Regions from separate parts of the Homo sapiens genome. Here region 1 is linked to region 2. Evidence: fine-mapped QTL for protein levels in blood plasma. Region 2 holds a variant in brackets. A gene starts in the other region. All regions are shown on their forward strands. Region 1 holds the start of CCL17 (C-C motif chemokine ligand 17). Region 2 overlaps PLCL2 (phospholipase C like 2).

What was found. PIP is the posterior inclusion probability: the model's chance that the variant is causal. Protein levels are from antibody-based Olink assays in UK Biobank. Linkage for the fine-mapping came from a reference panel and not from the study's own genotypes, which makes the PIPs less certain.
Region 1: it holds the start of CCL17, and the variant in region 2 is fine-mapped to the plasma level of the CCL17 protein (UK Biobank, PIP above 0.99).

The regions. Positions count from the first base shown.
Region 1 is chr16:57,402,894-57,405,771 of GRCh38, forward strand. CCL17 (C-C motif chemokine ligand 17) reads left to right here and starts at 1,874. Exons shown (of 4, transcript NM_002987.3): 1 at 1,874-1,943.
Region 2 is chr3:17,087,356-17,090,279 of GRCh38, forward strand. PLCL2 (phospholipase C like 2) reads left to right here. Exons shown (of 6, transcript NM_001144382.2): 6 at 2,378-2,924. The coding sequence ends at 2,557. Among named protein-coding and RNA genes, the nearest start is that of PLCL2-AS1, 34 kb to the left of the region's middle. The variant A/G (reference allele first, on the strand shown) is at 1,407.

The DNA of each region.
Region 1 (2,878 bases), not on the chromosome of region 2:
AACCTCTGTCCCATGCAACTTACATCCCAGTAGGATGGGGGTGGGGGTACAGGTGGGAGACAGATAGTAAACAGCAGACATAAGTAAGCGAATGGCCTAGCATGTCAGAGGATATAAGCATTTCAGCAAAAAAAAAAAAAAAAAAGAGCAGAGGAAGAGATGGGGATGGCATGCAATTTGACTTCACTGAAAGATGTAATCTAAACAAATACATATATATATTTATAATATATATAATATATATTATTATCTATAATATATATAATATATATTATTATCTATAATATATATAATATATATTATTATCTATAATATATATAATATATATTATTATCTATAATATATATAATATATATTATTATCTATAATATATATAATATATATTATTATCTATAATATATATAATATATATTATTATCTATAATATATATAATATATATTATTATCTATAATATATATAATATATATATTATAATATATATAACATATATTATATATAATATATATATTATAATATATATATTATATTATAATATATATTATAATATATATATTATATTATAATATATATTATATTATATATATTATATAATAATATATATATTATAATATATATATTATATTATATATATGTTATATATATTATAAATATATATTTTATATATATATAATATATATTTATAATATATATAATATATATTTATAATATATATAATATATATTTATAATATATATTATATATATTATAAATATATATAATATATATATATATATATTTTTTGAGATAGAGTCTTGCTCTGTTGCCCAGGCTGGAGTGTAGTGGTGTGATCTTGGCTCACTGCAACCTCTGCCTCCTGGGTTCAAGTGATTCTCCTGCCTCAGCCTCCCAAGTACCTGGGACTACAGGCACCTGCCACCACGCTCAGCTGATTTTTGTATTTTTAGTAGAGATGGGATTTCACCATGTTGGCCAGGCTGGTCTCGAACCCCTGACTTCAAGTGATCCACCTGCCTCGGCCTCCCAAAGTGCTGGGATTACAGGCGTGAGCCACCACGCCCGGCCTAAAAAAGTTTGAAAAAGGTGAAGGAGTGAGTCCTGCAGGTATCTGGGGACAACATTCCAGGCTGAAAGAACAGTCCGTGCAAACCTCCTCAGGAAGGAGCATGTCTGTCTGGTTGGTTTGAGGCATAGGGAGGAGGCCAGGGTGGCTGGGGCAGAGTGAACCAGGGAACCAGGAGATACAGGTGGGCAGAGAGCAGGGCACAGAACTCGCGGGGCCTCGTGGCTGCTGGAGGGTCTTGGACTTGTCCTCTGCGTGAGGTGGAGAGCCACGGGGACGTTCTGAACACGGGAGATTCATGGTCCCTCTGCTGCTGTGCTGAGAATACACTGTAGGGGGCAAGGATGGAGACAGGGAGAGCACCCAGAAGGCAGTTGTAGGAAGCCAGGGATTGATGCTGGTTTCTGGGTGTATTTGGAAAGCAGAGACATGAGCTCACCCAACAGATGGGAAGTTGGGGGCGAGAGGAAGAGGCGTCAGGGATAGCGCCCAGGTTTCTGGCCCTAGTAACCGGAAGGAAGGGGCTGGCAGAGAAGGAGGAGAGAGCAGGTGTAGGGGTGGGTGGGAATCAGAAATTCAGCTTCAGACTTGGGGGGTTGGAGCTGCCTATTTGGTATGGCGAGTAGGCAGCTGGACGTAGAAGGAGGCTGGAGTTTGCGAGAGAAACTTGGGAGTGGTTGGCATATAGATGATATTTAAAGTCAGAAACGTGTACTATTTGCCAGATATAAGCAGTAAGGCAGTTGATGCAAACCAAAGCCTTCTAATGTAATTATTGTTATTATTTTCATTTTGCAGCTGTAGAAACTGAGGCTCAGAGAGAAGTGACTTTGAGCTCACAGTGTCACCGCCTGCTGATGGGAGAGCTGAATTCAAAACCAGGTGACCTGACCTAGAGTCTTTGCTCCTAACCCCTCCACTGTGAGGTGACCCCCTCGCTGGATCTTTCAGGGCATGTGTTAGATGAGCGGTGGATGGACTTTGGATCAAGGGAAGATAATCCATACAAGAAGGGGACAGGAGTTTGGAAGCAGCAAACCAAGTCACAAAGTGAGGGGACGCACTGGCCCTCAAGAAAGCTCAATGTTGGGGAGCAGGGAGATGAGACTGAATAGGAAGGAGGGGCTAGATGGAAGGTACAGCTTCAAGATTGGCCTGAAAAGTTTTGACTGGATGGGGAAGGAAGCAGGGAGCCATTGACGGTTTTGGAGGAAGGGGGCATTACATGGTCAGGGCAGCCCTTGTGAAAGATCCACCACATGTGGGCATGCAGCTGATGAGGGAGGTGTCAGGAGAGACCAGAGAGGAAGAAATAGGCCCAGAAGTTTTTGAGACTCTCTGGGTGTGAAGGATGAGGGCTGAGCCAGTGGAGATGAGAAGGAAGCAAGGAAGCCAAGCTCCCACTGAAGACAGCGCTGGGCAGAGTCTCTGCCTGATGTAATGTGGGGGATGGAGGCGAGGAATGAGTCAAGGGCAAAGTTTCAGACTTGGGGGCAGATGGGGAGATGGGAAACAATGCTGGCTTGAACAGAAAAAAAGGAGGCTGGTGTGAGAGGGAACTCGGTTTTGCCCTTCTGGTACCTGGGGCTGAGTGAACCATAGCAGGACAGACTTCTGCTTCCCAGCAGCTCACAGGTTAGTGTGGGGGACAGAACTGCACAGAGCTGGCCAGGCTGCAAGGCAGAGAGAGCTGAGGGGTGCCACAGAAAGATGGGCCGGAAGGAGGAGTGTCCAGGTGGGTGTGTCTGATTAGTTACTGGTCAGGGCTGGAGACAGAGATTTAAGAAGTATTTATCAGGCCAGGTGCGGTGGCTCAC
Region 2 (2,924 bases):
CGACATGGAGGAAATTTAAATGCATATTACTAAGCGAAAGAAGCCAATCCAAAAAGGCTACACACTGTGTTTCCAACTAGACGACATTGTTGAAAAGGCAGAACTGTGGAGACAATAAAAAGATCAATGGTTGCCAGGGGTTGGGAGTGGGGAAGGATGACTAGCAAAGCACAGAGGAATTTTAGGGTGGTGGAACTATTCTGCATGATCGTGTAAGGGTAGATAGATGTTGTTATACATTTTTCAAAACCCATGGAATACACAAAACCAAGGGTGAGCCCTAATTTAGGCAATAGACTTGAGGGGATGTGGCAACATAGGTTCATTGATTGTAACAAGTATACCACTGTGGTGCGGGATGTGGCTACTAGAGAAGGTTTGCGTAGGGAGGGAGCGTAAGGGAACTCTCTGTGGTTTCTGCTCTGTTTTGCTGTGAACCTAAAACTGTCCTAAAAATTAAAGTTTATTAATTTTAAAAAATAATATTTGGAGTTTTAAAACACAAAGACTAGTTAGTCTATTAAAACTGTGAATGTGTGTAGCAATTCTGCTTGTGAAGGGAAATACACTATTTAACATGAAATTATACTCCTGACACAATATGCTATATATACAAAGACCTCATAACTAGTAAATTTTCAACATGTGAGTTCAGTGACTAGTAAGAATGAATAAAAATGAAGCTCCTTTAGTTAATCTACGCAAGGGAACATCTATTTATAGTTACTAATTAAAGGACTCTGTAAAGCAGGAAAACCATGCATGGTAAGTGGTAGGCAGCAAACTGTTCTGTGGATTTGGGCCTCATGACGGTTTAAAATTGCCTTGCAATTTGATCTCACCAGTGGCTGACATTTGACTATAGTCCATTTGCCAGCCAAGGTAAGTCCCTACCCATTGCTCTCTGCAGCTGGCCCCAAGCTCCTGCTGGACAGGAATGCCTTAAAGGGGACCCACACTGGGAGGCAGTTCAGAAAGAGGGAAAGGCGGAGGAGGTGTAAGTAGGACAAAGAAAAGTCAAACTACAGAGGAATCATAAAGAAAATAATAGAATAAATTGAGAACCCAAGGGGATGGGAAAAAATAGCAAGCAAGGAGAGTGAGAAAGAAGAAAAGGTAATAGTGTAAGTAGAAAAAACTGTTAGTGGAAGGCAGGTTAAATTTGGAAGGAAAAATAGAACAAAAAAGCAAAGTAGGAGTGTTGGAATTTACAGCAATAGAGCACCACATCATCTCTTCTGCTCGATAATTTTGGAATTGTTGGCTGATGCATTAGCCCAGTGGTTTTCAACTGGGGGTAGCTCACCCTCCCACTCAAGAGACAGTTAGCAATGTCTGCAAACATTAGGGTATGCTAGGGGTGCTGCTAAATATCTGAAAATACACAAGACAGCTCCCCACCTCCA[A/G]AGAATTCTCTGGTCCAAAATGTCAAGAGCAAAGAGGGTGACAAACTTCATTGGCCCATTGTCAGCACCGATTCCAGACTCCCAGTGACTGTGCTTCAATTCGCCCACTGTTTTCTGACCTATATCATGTTATACTGCATATAGATCAAGTTGATGGTCAGACCTCAGAAAAGAAATTAAAATTTGGCTGAGAAAGTATATCCAAAGTAGAAAATCCTTTGCTTCACTCTTTCTTTCAGCAAATGCTCAGTGAGGACCTGCTGCGTGCCCACGGCTGCCAGCACTTACCAAAGGCTGTGTGGGCTTCAGAGATGGAGAACAGATTAGTGGTTGCCAGGGTTTAGGGATGGTGGAGAGGAGGGGTGGGTGTGACTTCCTGGTGGTGCTGGTGCAGTGCTGTGCCTTGGTTGCCACGGTGGTTACGTGAACCCACACATGTGATGAAGTCACACAGAAGCATAGGCACACTTTGTACCCCCATCAGTGTCTTGGTTTTGATATTGTGCTATAGTTATGTGAGACATAACCATTGGGGGAAATTTGGGAAAGGGTATACAAGACCTCTCTGTACTATATTTGTATCCTTCTGTGAGTTTATACTTATTTCAAAATAAAAAGTTTTTTTTTTAATCAAACCTTAAAAGGGAAAAAACAAGATTGGCCAAACAACTAATGAAAGATGTAATTTTAACCAGGATAGACAGGAATAGTTCATGCACACAGAACCCCATGCAGATCTATAAATAGAAAGGGCCAGAAAGGCAGCATACTCTTGGAGTGTGGTGTTGAAACTGGGAAAACAAACTCACTTTTTATTAAAATTGACCTATTCAGATGCAGTGCCAATAAGAAATAATTATGCCTTCTTGTGGAATCAGAATACTTCTATTTCAGTGAAAGATAGATATTGTTGAAGTATAACACTAAGTTATGTCATATCTAATACTGTTTAATTGCATGTTTTGTTATAGGGACAAGCAGATCTTTTGAAATATGCTAAGAATGAGACATTGGAGAACCTGAAACAAATCCATTTTGCTGCTGTTTCATGTGGACTGAATAAACCAGGCACCGAAAATGCTGATGTCCAGAAGCCACGCCGGAGCTTGGAAGTCATACCCGAAAAAGCAAACGATGAAACTGGAGAATGAGGAAACTTACAATAAACCATTATGGAGTTTATAACTCTAGGACCAATTGTAGTCAGATGGGACATTTGCTTTGCACTCACTAATGAGAATAATATTCGGGATTTTAAAGCACAACTGGAATAGCTAATTACAGTCTATTAAAACTGTGAATGTATGTAGCAATCCTGCGTGTGAAGGCAAATAAACTCTTTAACAGGCAATTATATTGCTGGCCAAAATATGCTATATTTGTATACAAAGACATTCTAACTCAGTTCCAGTATGAAGAAAGATTATTCACTCTAGCTCCACTGAGAAACATTTTCCTAAGTGAAAACAATTTCTTAAGATGGAAATGGATTGGATTGTCAAATTATTATTTATTGGA